Linked DNA regions of Homo sapiens. The protein of the gene in region 1 purifies or fractionates together with the protein of each later gene. This does not show direct contact. Each region holds a gene or a part of one and is shown in the gene's direction. Other genes may lie near its edges. The genes, in order: SMAD9, SMAP2, RBMS1, PPP2R2C, BCL7B and ZNF143.

Evidence for each region.
Region 2: the proteins of SMAD9 (region 1) and SMAP2 purify together in Homo sapiens (affinity purification with mass spectrometry, with the first as the bait; one large-scale study listed by BioGRID). This does not show direct contact.
Region 3: the proteins of SMAD9 (region 1) and RBMS1 purify together in Homo sapiens (affinity purification with mass spectrometry, with the first as the bait; one large-scale study listed by BioGRID). This does not show direct contact.
Region 4: the proteins of SMAD9 (region 1) and PPP2R2C purify together in Homo sapiens (affinity purification with mass spectrometry; one large-scale study listed by BioGRID and IntAct). This does not show direct contact.
Region 5: the proteins of SMAD9 (region 1) and BCL7B purify together in Homo sapiens (affinity purification with mass spectrometry; one large-scale study listed by BioGRID and IntAct). This does not show direct contact.
Region 6: the proteins of SMAD9 (region 1) and ZNF143 purify together in Homo sapiens (affinity purification with mass spectrometry, with the first as the bait; one large-scale study listed by BioGRID). This does not show direct contact.

The regions. Positions count from the first base shown.
Region 1 is NC_000013.11:36,917,439-36,921,593, reverse strand, and holds the start of SMAD9 (mothers against decapentaplegic homolog 9), read left to right. Parts: upstream 1-1,355; 5' UTR 1,356-1,478; intron 1,479-1,557; exon of another isoform or gene 1,558-4,155. UniProt on the Homo sapiens protein: Transcriptional modulator activated by BMP (bone morphogenetic proteins) type 1 receptor kinase. SMAD9 is a receptor-regulated SMAD (R-SMAD).
Region 2 is NC_000001.11:40,408,227-40,411,726, forward strand, and holds part of SMAP2 (stromal membrane-associated protein 2), read left to right. Parts: intron 1-426; coding exon 427-512; intron 513-1,530; coding exon 1,531-1,609; intron 1,610-3,500.
Region 3 is NC_000002.12:160,284,308-160,287,807, reverse strand, and holds part of RBMS1 (RNA-binding motif, single-stranded-interacting protein 1), read left to right. Parts: intron 1-723; coding exon 724-839; intron 840-2,763; coding exon 2,764-2,813; intron 2,814-2,939; coding exon 2,940-3,033; intron 3,034-3,500.
Region 4 is NC_000004.12:6,326,115-6,329,614, reverse strand, and holds part of PPP2R2C (protein phosphatase 2, regulatory subunit B, gamma), read left to right. Parts: intron 1-261; coding exon 262-353; intron 354-3,500. UniProt on the Homo sapiens protein: The B regulatory subunit might modulate substrate selectivity and catalytic activity, and might also direct the localization of the catalytic enzyme to a particular subcellular compartment.
Region 5 is NC_000007.14:73,535,856-73,538,273, reverse strand, and holds the end of BCL7B (B-cell CLL/lymphoma 7 protein family member B), read left to right. Parts: intron 1-260; coding exon 261-340; intron 341-883; coding exon 884-976; 3' UTR 977-1,918; downstream 1,919-2,418. UniProt on the Homo sapiens protein: Positive regulator of apoptosis. Plays a role in the Wnt signaling pathway, negatively regulating the expression of Wnt signaling components CTNNB1 and HMGA1.
Region 6 is NC_000011.10:9,474,512-9,478,011, forward strand, and holds part of ZNF143 (zinc finger protein 143), read left to right. Parts: intron 1-38; coding exon 39-122; intron 123-3,500. UniProt on the Homo sapiens protein: Transcriptional activator. Activates the gene for selenocysteine tRNA (tRNAsec). Binds to the SPH motif of small nuclear RNA (snRNA) gene promoters. Participates in efficient U6 RNA polymerase III transcription via its interaction with CHD8.

The DNA.
Region 1 (4,155 bases):
ATCCAGCCTAATCCTTAATATATAATCTGTAGCCCTTACCGGTCCCGCTGTTTCCTGGTGTTTCTCACCCAGGACAATCTCAAACCCAACACATAGCCGGGTGCAGAGGTATCTGGGCCAGTGTAGAAAGAAGACTTTGAGGTTAAGGCATGGTATTTAAGGTTCTGCTGCAAATGTTGTTTTAAACAAATCACCGTTCAACTACAACGGTATAATAATGCAAAAATAGCATCTGCCATGAAGAAAGTGCAGTGCTTTGAGAACTAGAAAAAGCAGTTAAATTTAAGGCCTTGCTTTACATTTCGGAGCCGCCATCGGGGCCAACTGGAGGTATGACTTTCCTGCACACAGGAGCAAGCTGAAAACTGCCCTGTGGCTTTATTCCACGTTCACCCCTGCAGCAAATGCCTTTTCTGTGAGGAACTACGGGCTGATGGGGAATCAGAGGTGGTTCTTCCTAAGTGGCGTTTCTGAGTGGGTTCCAGGAGTCCACAGTGACTTTAAGAGGCAGGCTACCTGGGGGACAGCCAGGCCGTGAGACGAGAAAGTTGTACAGTAACATTGCTGTGTGCCCATAAGTTTGTATCTTTTATTAGATTAGATAATATATCTCACATGCTGGGTTGTTAAGCAAATAAATATGTGTAAGGAAATTACAATCCACATAATTACATGAGTCGTTTTAACCACCACTCACCCCCAGAGTGATTAGATTTTCTTCTGCCTATGCCATTGCGGCCCAGTTGCTCTGTCACTGTCCATGGGGACAGGATCCCCTTACTCCGAAAAGCAAATCAGGAACAAACAGGGCAAGTGAGAGTCACTATCAGGGCCCAGAAACATGTGAGGAACAGCAGCTCAGAAGGGTCTCCAGACTGATGGGCCGGTGATCCTATATTCTTGTTGGGCTGACAACTCTTCTGGTTTCGGGCTCCAGGTGCTGGCAAGAAATCTCAGAGGTGGGGTGGGAGAGAGAGACGCGAGGCGACCCACGCAGACAAAGGGCTCCCACCCCACCCCCGGGCCACCCCGGCAGGCCGGGCAGGGGCCGAGCCTGGGGTCGCGCAGGGGGACCGAGAGGGCAGCGCGGGGCTGGGGGTGGGGAAGAGGCGGGAACCGAGCCGCAGGCCGCTGCGAGGAGTACTACCCCGCCACCCCCGCGCCGCGAGTTTCCGCGCACGTGGCCGTGGGGCCGGTCTCGCTCCCGCCCCCCGCCGGGCCCGCGCAGCCCCCTCCTCTGCGGCTCCCGGAGCGGCCAGAGCGCGCGGCGGCGGGCGGGGGCGGGCCGCAAGCAGGGCTCCCTGGCCGCTTTCCAGGTCGGCGCACTAATACGGGCGATGAGGCTTCGCGGCTCCAGTCTGACTGACGCCGGCTGGGGCCGCCGCCGCCGCCGCCGCCGCCGCCGCTGCTGCAGCCGCTGTCTCGGTCCCCGCCGCCGCCGCCGGGCCCTGCAGGCGCTGGGCGCGCGCAGCCAGGCAGTGAGTGCGCGGCGCTCGGAGCGGGCGGCCGGGGGACCACGGCGGGGGCGGGGTTGGGGGCGCCGGACCTGGGTGGGGGAGGGATGAGTGGCACGGCGGGGACAGGTAAGACGTGCCCTCCTCGGCCGCGCGCTGCTTGTGTGCGTGCGTGTGAGCGCATTGAGTGGAGGGCGAAGTTGTTCGTCCTCGGGGCAGCCTGGGAGGCTCCTCGGCGTGAGGCTTGGCTTTTGGCGGTCGTTGTTCCCGGGTTTTTTGGTGGAGCCTGTCTGGGGTGGAGTGGGGTGGGGTGGGGTGGGCGCGGGGCCGGAGGGGACTGCTCTGGGGAGTTGGCCGCGGCGCAGCTCGCCTTCCTCGCGCCTGCATCCGCCCGCGCCGCGGGCCCCGGGACCTGTCAGGGGATGTTCGACCCGCGGCGGGGGCGGCGGTCGGGTCGGGGCTGGGGCCCGGGGCGTGGGCAGGGACCAGGATAGGCGCCTGAGGGGTCGCTTGCTGTAGCTGGAGATAGGGGACAGCGGACAGAGGGGGCGGCGGGGGTCGTCATTGTGACTCTTTGGGGGCCACTTTTAAACTCGCCAGCGCCGAATTGGCCTCACTTGCCTTCTGTTTCGTAGGCTTTTTGCTTTGTTTACCTTTGAGGCATGCGAACTGAGAAAAAAAGTTAGGAATGTTGTTGAAGTGTCTCCGGGCTCGCGCTTGGACTGTGTCGGAGCCGGGGTGTTTGTCTTTTCCTTGGCCCGCCCCTCGGTGCCAGCTCTCCGCAGAGGGGAGGGGGCGAGGTGGGAAGCAGATACAGGAGACTGCCTGACGCCAGCTTTGTGATCGGAAGGAGGAGCGCTGGGAGAACATTTTTATGGATGGCTAATCGCTGACAAGTTTTCCCGTTACTATTCCTTCCTCCTCCTGCCCTTGACCGTGGACATTTGAAGTGATAGTTTGGAAATACTACGTTGACTTATTTCTGGGCTGGAGTGGGTACTCCTGAGAACTAACCTACAAAGGATACAAATCGAGTTTGGAGATAAAATTGTATGTAAATTCTTTACCCAGTAGTTTACAGTGAGAAACACACCCACAGGGCACTGTGGAGTGCTTTGGATGGATCCAGTTTACTAGTACCATTTCGGTGGCTTGCCAGATTTCTCGGATGATCTTTTGGAAATGTAGGTTAGCAAGAAGCATGGAGGCTGACCGTTAAGTCGTGAGGCATTTAATAATGCTGCCTCCTAAGCAGTAACTGAGCGGAACGTTTGTGGCACCCGTCTGGGAAAGTGAAATGTGACTACTACAAGCATGTCTCCTGCCTTAGCATTCCTCCAAGTGTGAGGGAATGCCTTTGGATGTTTACATTTTAAAAATAGTGATCTATATTTAAGAAGGCATTTAAAATAAAAGCCAAAGACATTCTCAACTCCAAATAGACAAAGATTCAATATAAGAGTTTCCCTGTGCTTGTAGGAAAGCATCAGCACAATTTTAGACTGCTTTTAGGTTTGTGGTTATCCAAGAAGGAGGCTTCAGATAAGAAAAGGATGTGACGCTTTATAAATAAGGAGCATTTTAAATACAAGATGACAGCAATTTCAAGTACTGTATCCGAAAAACAACTTTTAGTGGTAATAGTCACCTTCAGTGATGGCAAGACAGCTGTCTGCCAGACAGCCTTCGGCCTCTTAATGTATTCTGACACAACCAACTCCCATTTTTATGCTTGACTGGTTATCTTTGTCAGAGCTGTTTTATGCTTGAGCTCTCTGGTTTCAAACTATGCTTAAGAGAATGCCAACATACTCTTGATCTGAACAAACTCATGTTTATCAGTGCAGTGTTTACTAAAAATCAAAGACGTAAACAAATTTTGGGTTAAACCTCTAAGTACTTTAGAATTGCCACATCATTGTCATCAGTCTTTCAAAGTCAACATGAACTATTTGGCTTTTCTCCTTTAAAAAATTTTTTTAACTTATATATTCCTAGTTAGTAAGTAATCAGAAAATATTCACAGATGTCAACTCTTGCATCTGTGATTGCCCAAGACATGGATGAGAAAGAAGAGTTTTGTTTTGTTTTTTAAATGAAACATTACTAAAGATATCCATAAGTAATAAACAAGTGGTACACTATCTTTACTAATCATGTGGTCAGTTGGAGGGAAAAAAGTCTGTCCAGAAATTGTTTCATAAAGATGAAAATATTCAATGTCAATATGAAAATACTCAATATGTTTTCCAAATAGTTTAATTCTGATTAATGAGAGTGCACTATGCATTGCCAAACTGGAGGGATGGTGTTTCGTAAGTGAGCACCGTAGGATTAAGGTAACTACTTTATATCTGACATTCCCTCTGTAATAAATAGGACAGCAGTTTCATCATGTTCTGCTTTAATATGTGGGAAATAATCCTTATCCACAGGATGTACTCTGATTTTAGGGAAGGTAAAGGTTATGACAAATATGTGGTTTTTCTGATTTGCCAGACATACTATGCTAAATTTTAAAGCTTTAACGAAGCTTAGTGCAGACTTTCTGTATATTGTTTTGGACACTTAGAGAGGAGTTAAAGAAACGGGAAACTGTCCAGAATGAAACAGTAAATATAGCAGTACGTTGAAACCATGAATCTTCTCAAATAGTTGTAATTCTAGGCTGTTGGATTTATATTTCCTTGGTTACTGTTGC
Region 2 (3,500 bases), on another chromosome or scaffold:
CAAGTGTTAAGGAGTCTACTTAAAAGCCTAATGGGAAACACATTTATTGGAATTGATTAATAGTATAAACTCAGAATGATAACACTGATCATTGCCTGCCAAGTAGACATTTTAATTGGTAGCTGTGTATCTAAGAGTTTCAAATGAGATCTTGATTTATTACTGAATTGAATGTATCTTGGTACACAAATATTTCAGTAAAAGGAACCTATGGAGTGGGGGAAAGACAGCTTGGGGCAAATGATTGGGAAATCCTAGTAAGGTAGAGGGAATCATGAATTGGAAATCAGAATACACAAGTTTAAATGTTGGTTCTGACACTCTCTAGGTTGGTTCTTCAATTGTACAGTAGTGGAATTGGGTGAGAAGTTTTTCAGTTCTTTCTTGATCTGACGTTCCATGTTTCTACATTCTCTTTGGTCACAGTGCATGCAAGAGATGGGAAATGGAAAGGCAAACCGACTTTATGAAGCCTATCTTCCTGAGACCTTTCGGCGACCTCAGATAGACCCGTATCTTTTCTGGAGCAACTTAGAAGGCTGAGTGGTATTTTGATGCTTGGGGAGAGTCAGACAAGACTCCAGTCCTGTAATGTGACTGGGTCATCTCTATGTGGATTAGTCAGTGTCCTTGCTTGTCCTCTGTCCTGCAATCAAGGTGCACAAAAAGCACATGTATTTGTGAATGTCGGAATTGTCATACGGTGTCACTTGAAGAAGACTCACTCTGGAATTAAGACTGCAGTGATTTCACTGTGAATTCTTCTATAAAGTTACATCTCCACTAGTTTATTTTGGATCTCTGAAACTATTGTTTGATTAAAAAGAGTAGTTCATTGTGCTCTGTTAACCCTGGCAGTCAGCAAAATTGCCATTCATTTTTATCATCTTTTTATGTCTTGGGTGAAAGAATTAACTGTTGTTTACCAGTTTGTCAATAACCAATAACTTTCTTCCACCATCTGTTCAACAGAGCATAGCACCTAGGACACAAAACCAAATCCCTTAAAGGCAGTGCTTCTCAAAATGTAGTTTGTAGATCATCTTGTTAAGGTTCTTTTTTTTTTAATGGGTTCAGGTGGAACCTGTTAAATGCAGATTTGGGGCCTTGCAGAAGACCCACTGGTCAGAATTTGGCAGTGGGGCACAAGAGTTTATGTTTTTAAGGGGCACTTACGTGCCTTTGTTTGAGGCCTATTGACCTAAGTGCTTTAAAATAGACATTTGACTGCTTTACCTATATTCTAGAACAGCCACATACAGCCTCTAATGTCAGTTTGAAGGTTAATTCCACTTGCTGCTATCATCACGCTGAAGGGAAAGCATAGGAAGTAATGATTCCCTGCTTTAACTGTGAAAGAGGCATTTTAAGGTTTTGGTCAGAGAAATTGCATATGAAGAGGCAGGAGCCATGTGGGGAAACCAGGCAAGAGGGAAGGAGGAGAACAATGCTCCGTGGAACACAATTGATCTTTTATCTTCTTGCTGTTTGAGAGGCTTGTTGGATTCATCCTTAATAAGCTTTTTGCAGAGCTGTTGAAGGATTTATTCGAGACAAATATGAGAAGAAGAAATACATGGACCGAAGTCTGGACATCAATGCCTTTAGGGTTGGTTATACATCTTTCAAGTTTTGTCCACAATAAGTAATGTGCTTATTAAATCAGGCCAGAGAACACGTTGAAGAACTGCTACCAAAACACTCCAAAACCATCTTTTAAAAAATGCAAAAGTAGACCAGGTGTGGTGGCTCATCCCCTAATCCCATCACTTTGGGAGGCTGAGGTGGGAGGATCACTTGAACCTAGAAGTTTAAGACCAGCCTGGGCAACAAAGAAAGACCCCCATCTCTACAAAAAATTTAAAAATTAGCCAGGCATGGTGGTATACATGCCTGTAATAACCAGCTACTTGGGAGGCTGAGGTCGGAGGATTACGTGAGCCAGGGAGGTTGAGGCTGCAGTGAGCTGTGATTGCACCACTTCATTCCAGTCTAGGCAACGGAGTTTGACCCTGTCTCAATATAAATTTTTAAGCAAAAGTAAAAAGTGCCAGTTACTGAGTCAAGACCATGAGGCAGAAACAAACTTCTGCCTATCGGTGAATTCTTGCCTTAATCTGTAGTTAGAAGGTGTTAGTGATGATTCCCAGTTTTGAATTATTTCTTGGGATGGACATGTTGCATATACTAGATCAAATAAAACAGTATATGTGTATATGTACTACAGCTATATCTATCTACATAGATATATACACACATATATACTTTTTTCCTGTAAATGAAATCAACAAAAGTAGGTGTAATTAAATCACCAGAGTTTCCTTCAGTTTGACCAATGTATATTTCCAGCATTACCTGCTGATAACCAGTGTGTTGGACTGATTGCCAATGGGACCCTTGTTTCTGAGAAGGGTTTCAGAGGGAGACTGGCTACCAGTTGCCAAGAACACATTCCATCCTAGGCATGTTTAGAATCTGCAATACAGTATATGATAACTAGGACAAATATAACACACAGGGGGACAGACAGCATGATTTCTGAAAGAGGAAAATATGCCTAACTAATGACAGCTAATGGAGAACCAATAGATATGACTATTTATACCTTTAAATAACCTTTGACAAGATTCTACAGAAAATTCTCTTAGGAATAATTGGCTATTTATCTAGTCACAGAAGTATTGAGAGTAAGGGATTCTCCACTTCCAGCGCAGGTCCTACCTATCTATCATCTATTCTAGTTATGTAATAATGATATAATAGCCAGTGAAATCACTGTTTGCACTGAGCTCCAAGCCCTTCTGGGTAATTAAAAGTTAAGCTAATTGGAATCCACTTCAGGCTGATCTTATGAAGCTGTGTGAAAGGGGCATTAACTGGTAGGTGAATTTCAACACAGGCAAGTAAGTGTAATACATATAGTTAGGTAAAAATGATTCCTTCTCAACTGTGTATGAAGGACTCTTACCTTGCAGTTATCCAGAAAAGGGACTTGTCAATATCATATCTGTGCCAAGAAAGAACCCAGTGTGCAGCTACAGCTTGCATGGCATCATCAAAAACAGTTTAGAACCCAAGCATACACATTTCGTTTTATTTGTAGAAAACTGTGGTCTGTCTGCCCAGCTCTGTTCATTGTGCCTAAAGATATGAACTCAGATGAGGTCAGAAAAGGGTATCTGAGATAATTCAGATGACGAAGGAGTAGAGTTGCTATTTGTACACAGCTATTGTGGAAACAGCAGCTCTGCCCTCAGGGTATTCATGATTTCATTGCTGGTATACTGTACCCATGAAAGCAAGCCCGGTTACCGGATGTTTCTCTTAGGAAGGAAATAACCTCCCATTTACCAAAAAGCTATTTCAGAATTTGTTATTTAATGTACTTAGATTTTTTTCATATTTTGTGAAGATTTTTATGCCAATAATTAGTATTTGCTAAGTGAAGACGTTTAATATCAAATGAAAAGAAACTGGCTTTGTTAAAAACTATTCTTTTT
Region 3 (3,500 bases), on another chromosome or scaffold:
ATTTTTAGCTTTCTCACAACAGCCATCTTCACTGACGTATCCCAAAAATAAACATATGAGACCTATTTCTATTCATTCACTGATGCAACCAAGATGTAATAAGCAACTACAAAGTCCAGACACTTAGGCACTGGGGATACAGTGATAGACAAAACAGACAATGTTACTGCCCCCATGGGGCGTATAGCCTAGAAGGGGAAACAGACACCAAGCAAGTAAACATACTCACCAATTGTTACAAATTGTGAATAAAAATATATGTGCGAGCAGTGTAGAGGTGGCTTGTTTTCTACTGGGAGAAGTGAAGGGTCCCTCTTAGGAATTATAATGGGACGCTAAGGGACCATTTTAAGTTGGGGGAGGGGAGGATGGCACAATCCTATTGAATTTGAAGATTATTTTGGTGACGGTCCAGAGGTGGAATTGGAGAGGGCCCAAAACCAAAAGAAATGTGTCTACTCTTAAGTGTGAAAGTGAATCGAAAGATTCCTTTGCTTCCTCAGAATAGTTATTTAAATGTTCAGAAATAATAACTAGTATGTTTTTCTGCACTATGTTTTTCATCGTGGACAGTTTTACAAAGGTCTGAGTAAACTGCTTTTGCCTTAAAGTGTTGTATGAATTTTCTAATAGCGTGAACACTATTCCTATTTTTGTAATACATTTTGTCATCCACATACACGTATCATTGTGGTTTCATTTTATTTTTCTCTGTTTACTTAGCCCCCACAGAACCTTTATTGTGTAAGTTTGCTGATGGAGGACAGAAAAAGAGACAGAACCCAAACAAATACATCCCTAATGGAAGACCATGGCATAGAGAAGGAGAGGTGAGACTTGTAAGTCCTTTCTTGAAACTTTGCGGGGTGGGGGAGGGGGTGTGATCTTGAATGCCCACATGAAAAGTAACACAAAAAGGCATCTTGACTTGGCTGCACACTTCTGAAATAGGTGCCAGGATTAAATCTTCCTTTCGGTACATTATAATTCAAGTGATGCCAAATTAAAATTCTTTTCATTATATATGGTGATAACAGAGTGATTCTCCAGATGGACCGATAGGTGGTGGAAGCAGCTGTGTTTACCAGCTAGCTACACATGAAGTAAAAGAGCATTCTAAATTGCCATAAGAAAAACACAAGTGATTTGGGTTTGTTTTTGGTTTTTTTCAGAAACAGGGTTTCTGTAGGCTAGGCGCGGTGGCTCACACCTATAATCCTAGCACTTTGGGAGGCCAAGGCAGGCAGATCACCTGAGATCAGGAGTTAGAGATCAGCCTGGCCAACATGGCGAAACCCCGTCTCTACTAAAAATACAAAAATTAGCCCTGCGTGGTGGTCCATGCCTGTAATCCCAGCTACCTGGGAGGCTGAGGCAGGAGAATCGCTGCAGCCCGGGAGGCAGAGGCTGCAGTGTTCCAAGATCATGCCACTGCACTCCAGCCTGGGCAACAGAGCGAGACTCCATCTCAAAAAAAAAAAACAAAATAAAAAAAAAAAAAAAAGAAAGGAAGAAACATGGTCTCTGTTGCCCAGGCTGGAGTCCAGTGGTGTGGTTATAGCCTACCACAACCTTGAACTCCTGTGCTCAAGCAGTCCTCCCACCTCAGCCTCCTATGTAGCTGAGACGACAGGGACATGCCACCACTCCTGGCTAATTTTTAAAAATTTTTATTTTTTTATTTATTTTTTATTTTTGAGATGGAGTCTTGCTCTGTCGCTCAGGCTGGAGGGCAGTGGCACGATCTCCGCTCACTGCAAGCTCTGCCTCCTGGGTTCATGCCATTCTCCTGCCTCAGCCTCCCAAGTAGCTGGGACTACAGGCACCCACCACCATGCGCGGCTAATTTTTTGTATTTTTACTAGAGATGGGGTTTCACCGTGTTAGTCGGGATGGTCTCAATCTCCTGGCCTCATGATCCACCCACCTCAGCCTCCCAAAGTGCTGGGATTACAGGCGTGAACCATCGTGCTCGGCCTAATTTTTTAAAATTTTTATAGAGATAGGATCTAACTATGTTGCCCAGGCTAGCATGGTTTCTTAGAGGGGTTTATATTTATAATATTTAGAAGTTATCCTAAATAGTAATCTAAATATTTATATATAAATAGTACATTTATCACTGAGTTGGGGTTTTTTTCACCTCTCTTTTGAATAGTTTTTTTTTTAATTAAAACTCTCAATTTCGTAATAAAATGTTGGACGTCCATTTCCCTGTATTGACTTTCCATGAATTATTATTTTAAAAACAATAACATATTGATCCAAGAATGTCTAGGGAAAATGTTCTAGAATCTGCACTGTCCAATAACAGCCACCAGCCACAGGTGGCTCTCTGAGCACTTGAAACGTAGCTAGTATGCTAGAGAGATTGATTTTTTATGTAGTTTTAAATAGCTGCATGTGGCTTATGACTATCACATGGGACAGTGCAGGTCCAGAGATTAATTTTCATATTTATAGTCATTTTGACTAACAGAAACTCCCAATTTTATCAAATGCTACTAGACTCTAAGTACAAATTCCCCTCCCTCCCCTTTTTTTTTAAGAGACAGGGGTCTCCTTCTGTTGCCCAGGCTGGAGTGCAGTGATGTAATCATAGCTAACTACAGCCTCGAACTCCTGGGCTTCAAAAGGATCTTCCCACCTCAGCCTCCCCAGCAGCTGGGACTACAGGTGCACACCACCACACCTGGCTAAAAATAGAATTTTTAAATCATGCCTTTCTAGATGAATGTTTATATTTCTTTCTCTTTCCCATAGGCTGGAATGACACTTACTTACGACCCAACTACAGCTGCTATACAGAACGGGTATGTCGTTAAAATAAATCCATAATGGCTTGAGGGAAAATGTGAAGGTGGAAAATATCAGACATTTGTTCCATGAATTATTCTATTTAAAGGATTACTTAATAAAGGCTTTTGTGTTTGTTCTAGATTTTATCCTTCACCATACAGTATTGCTACAAACCGAATGATCACTCAAACTTCTATTACACCCTATATTGCATCTCCTGTATCTGCCTACCAGGTTTGTACCTTTAGGATTCGTCAGCAGTATAACCACTTGCGGACCATGAATCTCTGCTACATTTTTATGTGTCTTAAAATTTTGAGCGTTTATGAAATTTGAGTCAAATATTATGCAGCTTGGATACCCAATTTAGTATGAGCTGCTTTGTATTTGGCAGAGCAATTTATGTATAGGAGAATGTAAAGCAAAGGAAAATGTTTGTCAGTGGTCAGTCCTTGGAATCATAGCATTTTGGATTGGAATGAACCCAAACACTTCCTTCACCAAGGGGCCCTGCTTTTGGACACCATGTGTCCCAAAAATTGAAACTTAAGATAATTGCCGTTAGATATAATACAGAATAGGTGTGTACCCTTGCTTTTGTTTATTCTTCAGCAGGAACTGATAAAAGAACAAGTATAAACATGGTAATACATAAAGATGTGTCTCTAGTAGGTAGCATTAAGTGAGCAATGCAGCTGACA
Region 4 (3,500 bases), on another chromosome or scaffold:
GCCCCCCGATAAGATGAGCAGGGCTGTATTGGGCTGTGTCACGGTCGGGGTCAGCCGTGTGCCTGGTCATGGGCCTCCCGATGAGATGAGCAGGGCTGTGTCGGGCTGTGTCAGAGCATTCAGACCCTCGCTGAGATGAGCAGGTCTGCGCTGGGCCATGTCAGGGCATGCAGACCCTCGCTGCTCTTTGAGACCCTTCTTGTGGAAGGGCCAGGATGGTCGGGACGCCCCGTCCACTCACCTCATCCCTTATCCCACCAGGTCCATGACTACCTTCGGAGCAAGCTCTGTTCCCTGTACGAGAACGACTGCATTTTCGACAAGTTTGAATGTGCCTGGAACGGGAGCGACAGGTAAGCCCTGACCTCAGCCCGCACCTCACCTCACCGTAGGGAGGGTTTCTGCCCTGCAGGGGTCTGGGCTGGGATTCCGGTGACCCGCAGCATGGGGCTACTCAGCCTCAATGGGTCCAGGTGTCTGGGTGAAGCCCACGCTTTCCAGAGCAGGTCCAACTCTCAGCGCTCAGATTCAAGGGGCAGGACATGAAATTCTTCATCTTCTGTCACTGAACCTCACAGCCACGTTGGCGCCTGCCCTATGGGCAGTAGTGGGAACATGTTTAGTTAATTCAGGGTCCCCGGTGATGTGCTCCCCTCTCCCAGCTTGTCGGGGGCGAGGGCTATAGCCCAGCACCCGGTCACCATCATCCATCCACACCTGTATGTCCTGAGACAGCCCTGCACCCCTGTGGCTTTGACCATCGGTCTACTCACCCCTCCTCCCATCACCACTACTGTCTCCCTCTCTTCCTGGTGACACCCCACTCGGGCCCGCTGAGGCTCAGGGGCACCTTGGAGCTCCTACACCCTCCAGGGCTTGTCACAATCCACAAGTCCAGCCGTCTCTCAACCCCACCTGCCTGGAAAGTGGCGCCCCAGTGCCAGAAGTGAGTTCCTGTGTCTCCCTAGCCTGGGCTCAGCCCAGGGCGGGCATGGACAAGGGGGCTGTGGCAGGGGCTCCTGACCTGACCTCTACCCGTGGGTCCTTACCTCTGTGTCTCTTCTCTGGGATTCTTCCTCCATTCTGGAGGTGGGAAAATCCCTCTTCTGCCCTCCCAAATCACATCAGCTTTGTGCTCAGGGTCCTGCCAGGCGTAAGATTCTGAAATGGACAAGCCTACTCTCCATCTGTGAGTTTCGATCTCAGAAGCTGAGAGGTGGCCTCTCAGTGTCTCCTACAGCTGCTTCCTCAAGGACAGGATGCCTCTTTGTCCAGCCGCCCAGATTCAGAAGTGGGTCTCCAGATGATACACAGTGTGGAGATAAAGACTACACTGGCTGCTAGATCAGAATACCACCTGTCAGGAGCCCATGTACTGTCACCTCCTCCCCGCAGTCCTGTCCAGTGTGGTGGGCAAGGAGGGTGGAGTGAGAGCCAGCAGCCCTGACTTGGGCATCACCTGGTGGGGGGCTGTCCACCCTGTGGATGGCATCAGTCAACATGACAGGTCTGGGCTCTCCCAGACCTCTGAGGGTGGCTGGCACTGTGGTGGTCATGTGAGAGCTGCCGCACTATGACTCTCTGTGGCTCTGGGCATAGGGCTGGGACCATCAGGGTTGGTGTGTGGGATGAGGGGAGGGCTGGACATGGCAGAGACAGGACCAGGAGGGAGCCCCCTGGAAGCAGGGCTGGATCCAAGTGGGGGGCCAAGTCATTGTGTCCAGGGAAGGAGATTTCTGAGAGAGTTGCCAACATCCTGGAGCTCCCCCAGCCCGCAGGGGTCTCTCAGCAGAGCCCGAGCTCAGGCAAGGGGCTGGCATGGTGATCACAGGGGGCCACTAAAGGATGCTTAGAAAACCAGGATGGAGGCCCGACCCGGGGCTGGGCTGGCACAGCTGGGTCAGCAGGACACAGGACCTTCTCTCTAGGCCCTGCCCCCAGATAGATCCCAGACACCCCCAGCAGACAGGGCTCCTCCCATGCTGCTGAGCTGCATTTGGGGTTCCCTGGTGCAGTGGGTCCCAAGAGGGTCTATCCAAATCGGACGAGAGGGACCTGCAGCTGTAACAAGCTGATTCCAGCTTTTATGTGCGTTTTGCGGGGTAGGTCCCCGCTGGCTGCGACCCACTGCCCGTCCTTCCTTCAAGCTGCCACCAGGGGGCACCCGCGGCCAGGTGATGCCTGCTCCCAGGACTGGAGAAGCCGCCAAGCATCCCCAGGCTGACAGTGGTGTCTAGGCCTGGGCTCTCCTGTCCTGCCTCCCACCCGCCACTTCCTGCGTGCACTTTACACGCCAGCCACGCCCTGTCCTAGTGGTCCCCCACCCGCCTCACTGTCTCTCGCTCCACAGCTGGCTCTGCTCTGCCCGGCTGGAACCTCTGTCCTTGTTTGCCTCCCGCAATGGGTGGGGTGCCCTGGGGGGCTACTATGACTCAACCTGTTCTGAGCCCTTCACTGGGGACCTCAGGTGTGTCCAGTGGCTGTGGGTGTTTCTAGAAGGCATAGAGGTGTGCCACCTCCCAGTTCACTTTGAGCACTGTTCTGAGAACAACATGCCCCATGGTCAGGGGTCCCAAGATAAACAGACCCTGGGTCCTGCCTTCCAGGGCCTCAGAGGCTCAGGAGAGAAGCAAGGATTCCCCCCAGGTTCCCACATCCTTGCAGACCAAAGCAAACTCGAATCCTGGCAGGCTCCCAGTTGCTGCCCTCTTATTCCTGGTGACCCCCTCTGACAGTTGGTCCGGCCCGCAGAGCGCCGCTGCTGCCGCGTGGTGGCTGCCCGATGGCCCCTGCCGTGGGGCTTCCTAGCACCGGCAGAACGCAGATGGGCAGCGTGCTGTGGAGAGGCAGCAGCTCTCCTGCTGGACTCTCTCAGTCTCTGGTCCACATTCTACCCTCGCCACCGTGTGCTTGAGGAAGCCCCTAAGTCAGCTCGGCTGGAAAGTGGTTCTAGGAAACTGGCCTTCGTGGCCGCTTTGGGGATGAGACCATGTGTGATGCCTTCAGCAAGATCCCAGTTCGTATGCGCAGGGGTGCCGCAGTGATCCTGCGTGGACTATCCTATTGGCAGGCCTGCCCTTCCCCAGGTTACCTACCCGGAGGAATCCCGCAGGCCCTCCCACAACAGGCTTCAACGCCCCCTCCTCCATGAAGTTCTCCTTGATCTGTCCTGCCTGGGGGGAGAGATTTGTGCCAGCCGAGCGTGCTCGGGTGCGGGAGTCAAACACACCTACACTTGCTCTGAGGAGTCCTGGGCAAGGCTCCCCCAGGGGCCCATGCTGTATCCCTAGGGCTGTTTTTTTCTCTCCGGCCGTTTTCTTCTCTCCATGCTTCCCCATCTCCGCTCCTCCCTGCTTCTTCTTACACACTGGCCTCATCCTCTCCCTCTTCAGAGATGACCCCCAAATCATTCCCCTTTCCATTATCCTCAGCCAGCCAACCCCTCCCAGGGACTGTGTAAAACTCTCATGGAAGGATCTGATTGGCTCTGTGTGGGTCAC
Region 5 (2,418 bases), on another chromosome or scaffold:
GAGGATGACAAGATGAGCTGCTTTGTCGGTTCCAGATATCTCCAGCCCAGCAGAGATGGCCCTCTGCAGTCTAGCCGTATTTTGCCCTTCCACCATTCTTGGCTGTGACCTGGTCCAGCTGGGCCCTGAATGAATGTTTGCTTCTCAGGCCAGTATTCTCCCCTCCTCACCAAGCCACCTCCACACAGCTCTAAGGAAGCTCCCCCAGGTCCAGGCCTCAGGGGAGCCCTGCCCTCAGGCCGACCCTACTGCCTTTTCAGAGCCCTCCCTGCCCTCCTCGGAAGTTGCTGATGAACCTCCTACCCTCACCAAGGAAGAACCAGTTCCACTAGAGACACAGGTAAGCAATCACTTTGAGTTTTCCAGTTTTTTGTTTTTTTGGTTTAAGGCAGGGTCTCGCTGTTGCCCAGACTAGAGTGCAGTGGTGCGATCCTGGCTCACTACAACCTCCACTGCCTCCTGGGTTCAAGCAATTCTCCTGTTTCAGCCTCCTGAGTAGCTGGGATTACAGGCGCCCACTACCACACCTGGCTAATTTTTGTATTTTTAGTAGAGATGGGGTTTCACTATGTTGGCCAGGCTAGTCTCGAACTCCTGAGCCCAAGTGATCCACCCATCTCAGCCTCCCAATGTGCTGGGATTATAGGTGTGAGCCACTGTGCCCGGCCAGGCTTCCCAGTTTCTAAGTCAAAAAACCAGGAAAGACTGTGGATGTGGGGTTGGATCTGCAGCGCCGGAAATGAGTCCCAGGGTTGTAGGCAGGGGAGGATGTTTGATCATCTGCTGGAAGGAGCAGAGTGGACATCCCATTATAATTCGGGTGGGTGGGAAGGTTCTGGTTGGGAGGGGTGGCCCTGGCATTCCATGCTCTGCCTGCTCCTAGGTCGTTGAGGAAGAGGAAGACTCAGGTGCCCCGCCCCTGAAGCGCTTCTGTGTGGACCAACCCACAGTGCCGCAGACGGCGTCAGAAAGCTAGCACCATCCCGGCCCTCCGCCTCCTGGCCCTGCCTCTATTTATTGCATTCTGGTTCTGGCCGCGCCGCGTTGCTGGGGTAAGGGCAAGCACTGGGGTCAAGAGCCTGCACACATGAGCCTTCCGGGCTGGAAGGCTGGCGTAGGACTTGGGGCTGTAGCATCATCTTCCTGACCCTGGCACCTGTGTCTACTTGCTCCCGAGAAGAGGAGCGCTCATGTCTTTTTTGCACCCCAAGTTGGCTGGAGCATCGGCCACCCCAAGATTCATCTGTGACCTCCAGGCAGCAGTCTCTGCTCCAGAATCTCTGGACGGAGCTGCTGGCAGCTTCTGCGAGAAGAGAGAGATGTGGAAGGCACCTTCTAGAAGAGAGCGTGCCTCAGGTTACTTGAACTTGAACGGAGACTGTAGACTCCCGGACTTTCCCCTAGGACTGGGGGCCCTGTAGGCTGCTGTTGGAGGACTGGGTAGAGACATTGGAGGGAAGGGAAGGGCTTTTCTCCACACAAGGGCAGAGAGTCCGTCTAGATTTCTTGCTGTCCTGCCAGCTCTGCCCATGCCTGAGGTGGTCCTACCTCTCACGGGCACCCTAGCTGCTGACAGCCCTTTGTGGCCGCCGTCCCCATCCCCTGCCCTCAGCACACACATCTGCACACACGCAGCTTTGTTCTCACCTCTACCTGTCATTCCAGCATCCCTGCCTCTTGTCACAAACTGCCCCAGCAAGAATTTGAGGTTCTGACAACAGTACCCATCCCCCACAGTACCCCTTCAGCTCAGTTTCTAGAAAGCTCCCTTTTCTTTGAAATCTGCATGTTGAATTGAACTTTGTGATTTTATTTTTTGTTTCAAAAAAGTTTAAGAAAATGGAAATGGGCAACAGTGAGTGAAGACATATTTTAGCACTGAATAGAATATTTTTAAAATTAAACTATTTGAAATATGTCCTGTTGGTATCTGAGTGCTTCCTTCTTGAAGGTTGCGGGCCGGGGTGGGGGTGGTGGCTGAGTGCTTGTGGGGTCACTGTGGGCTGGGCCTGCCCATCCTTTCACTCCCACAGTGTGGACTTCATGACAGTGATTTCTAGCCTCCCTTTGAAGCTGTCACGTAGTTCAAATTATGCTTCTCGCTGGGCGTGGTGGCTCATACTTCTTATCCCAGCACTTTGGGAGGCCGAGGCAGGAGGATCACTTGAGGCTAGGAGTTTGAGACCAGCCTGGGCAACACAGCAAGACCCTATCTCTATCTAAACAATATTTTTAAATTAAAACATAAAAACCAGGCCAGGCGCAGTGGCTCCCGCCTGTAATCTTAGCACTTTGGGAGGCTGAGGTGGGTGGATCATCTGAGCTCAGGAGTTCAAGACCAGCCTGACCAGCAAAATGAGACCCCATCTCTACTAAAAATACAAAAATTAGCCAGGCATGGTGGCAGGCGCCTTTAGT
Region 6 (3,500 bases), on another chromosome or scaffold:
AGAAAACATGAGATCTAAATGTAAGCATTGTTCTTGAGCAGGGGACAGTTTGCGTCTAGAGGATGGTCAAGCAGTACAGTTAGAAGATGGTACCACAGCATTTATTCACCACACCTCCAAAGGTAAAATAACTTTGAAAGTATGAATAAAATAAGGGAGAAGTGGGAGTGGTGGGGGAAAGAAGACCTGTGTTTAGCTTCTGAATTGTTGTCATGGGAAAGAATTGTATTTATTCATTAAAGTACAAGGTGGCAGATTTAAGCATGATTTAAGGAAAAATTTTCCTACAATTTGAGCTGTCCAGTGACAAGCTGGAACAGCAAACCAAATGACTGGTCCCTGGAAGACTTAAAGTAGAGGCCACATTTTGTTTTTTTGGTTGGCTTTTGTTCTAAGAGACAGGGTCTCACTCTGTTGCCAGGCTGGATTGTGGTGGCACAAGCACAGCTCACTGCAGCCTCAAACTCCTGGGCTCAGGGATCCTCCTGCCTCAGCCTCCTGAATAGCTGGGACTACAGGTGCATGCTGCCTCTCCCAGCTAGTTTTTTCATTTTTTGTAGAGACAGGGTCTTACTCTGTTGCCAGGCTAATCTCAAACTCCTGGCCTCAAGCCAGCCTCCCAAAGTGCTGGGATTATAGGCGTTAGCTACTGCACCCAGCCTTAATTTCATATTTTAAAAGCAGCCTTGGCTCCTTTTTTAAATGATTCAGAAATAAAATCACAATGTAACATTGAAATGGTTAACTTCATATTTTATTCATTTCTGTATTTTAGAGATAAGATCTTTGTTAGGCTAGAGTGCAGTGGTACAATCATAGCTCACTATAGCCCTGAATTCCTGGGCTCAAGGGGCTTTCCTGCCTCAGCCTCCTGAGCAGCTAGGACTACACGTGTGTGTCACCACAGCCAGCTGATTTTTAAATTTTTATTTTCTGATTAATTTTTTTTGTTAAATATAGGGTCTTGCTATGTTGCTCAGGCTGGTCCTGAACTCCTGGCCTCAAGCAGTCCTCCTGCTCCGACCTCCCAAAGCAGTGGGGTCACAGACATGAACCACTTTGCCTAACCTATTTCTTCCTCTTAAATGCAATTTTTTGCCTGGGCATGTTGGCTCATGCCTGTAATCCTAGCACTTTGGGAGGCCGATGCAGGCGGATCACCTGAGGTCAGGGGTTTGAGACCAGCCTGGCCATGCAAAACCCTGTCTCTACTAAAAATACAAAAAAATACAAAAATTAGCCAGTTGTGGTAGTGCATGCCTTCAATCCTGGCTACTAGGGAGGCTGAGGCAGGAGAATCGCTTGAACCCAGGAGGTAGAGGTTGCAGTGTAGTTGAGATCGTGCCACTGCACTCCAGCCTGGGCAACAGAGTGAGACCCTGTCTCAAAAAAATATATATGTGTGTGTGTGTGTGTGTGTGTGTGTGTGTGTGTGTGTGTGTGTATAAAATTTTTAAAGCAAGGTCCTTTGCCTACTATGTTTAATTGAAACTAAGTATACAATGTCAAAAATATTTGAAGCAAATACAGCAAAATGTTAATGCTTATTACATTTGTTTAAGGGAAGTTCAGGGGTTTGAGGTGGAATGTCTAGGAATGATGAGTACAGCTCTGCAACCAGACTATGTATATTCAAAGCTACTTTTTTTTTGCTGTGTGACATTAAGCAGATTACTTTTCTGTGCTTTAGTTTCATCATCTGTAAAATGAGGATTATAGTAGGTGTCCATATCATACGTAGGGTTGTTGTGAGGACAGAATGCACAAACATGTAAAGCACTTAGAACCGTGCTTGTCTCATACTAAATGCTCAATAAATGTTACCTATTGTTACTACTTTAGAGAATATTTTATTTTAATTAATTAATTAATTTATTATTTTGAGACAGTCTCGCTCTGTTGCCAGGCTGGAGTGCAGGGACACGATCTTGGCTCACTGCAACCTCCGCCTCCTGGTTTCAAGCGATTCTCCTGCCTCAGCCTCCCAAGTAGCTGAGATTACAGGTGCCCGCCACTACACCCGGCTAATTTTTGTGTTTTAGTAAAGATGGGGTTTCACCATGTTGGTCAGGCTGGTCTCAAACTCCTGACCTCAGGTGATCCGCCCACTTCAGCCTCCCAAAGTGCTGGGATTACAGGCATGAGCCACTGCACCCAGCTAGAGAGCATTTTATTATAGAATGACATAACACGTTTTAGAAAGGCTGTTTTGTTGTGAAGCCAAAGGGAGGAATCTTTTTTTTTTTTTTTTTTTTTTTTTTTTTTTGAGACAGACTCTCGCTCTCTCTCCCAGTCTGGAGTGCAGTGGTGCGATCTCGGCTCACTGCAAGCTCCGCCTCCTGGGTTCACACCATTCTCCTGCCTCAGCCTTCGGAGTAGCTGGGACTACAGGCACCCACCACCATGCCCGGCTAATTTTTTGTATTTTTTTTAGTAGAGGCGGGGTTTCACCGTGTTAGCCAGGATGGTCTCGGTCTCCTGACCTTGTGATCTGCCCTCCTCAGCCTCCCAAACAAAGGGAGGAATCTTTAAAAAATTTAAAATACTTAAATTTATAAATAAATTTCTTTAATTACAGTTGGAAAAAAGTAAAGTCTGCACCCCTTCCTTCCTTCCTTCCTTCCTTCCTTCCTTCCTTCCTTCCTTCCTTCCTTCCTTCCTCCTCTCCCTTCCCTCCTTTCCCTCCTTTCCCTCCCTTCCCTTCCTTCCCTTCCTTCCCTTCCTTCCCTTCCTTCCCTTCCTTCCTTTTCTTTCTTTTCTTTTCAGCAGAGTCTTGCTCTGTCACCAGGCTGGAGTGCAGTGGTGCAATCTCGGCTCACTGCAACCTCCACATCCTGGGTTCAAGCGATTCTCCTGCTTCAGCCTCCCAAGTAGCTGGGACTACAGGTGCGCGCCACCATGCCCAGCTATTTTTTTTGTATTTTTAGTAGAGATGGGATTTCACCATGTTGGCTAGGATGGTCTCAATCTCTTGACCTTGTGATCCGCCTGGCTTGGCCTCCCAAAGTGTTGGGATTACAGGCGTGAGCCACCACAAAAGGCCGCACTTTTTTCTTTATCAATAAGAGTTAGTCACAGGTTCATTGTAACTGGCTAGATTTATTATTTCACTATCTCTATATATATATCGATATAAAATCACTATTTTATATCAATACCAGTATAGATATAGATATATCTTAGTGTGGACATTTAGAGGGGAAAAAACCACCATGGAGGGACTGTGGAGTCATACTGACATGAGTTCAAATCCTGATTTCTCTACATATTGATTTTGACTGTTAATTGTTAGTGTTTTTTCTTTGTTTGTTTTTGTTTTTGGTTTGTTTTTTGAGAGGGACTCTGGCTCTGTCGCCCAGGCTGGAGTGCAGTGGCACGATCTTGGCTCACTGCAACCTCTGCCTCCCAGGTTCAAGTGAGTCTCCTGCCTCAGCCTCCCCAGTAGCTGGGAATACAGGCGCGTGCCACCGTGCCCTGCTAAGTTTTTTGTATTTTTAGTA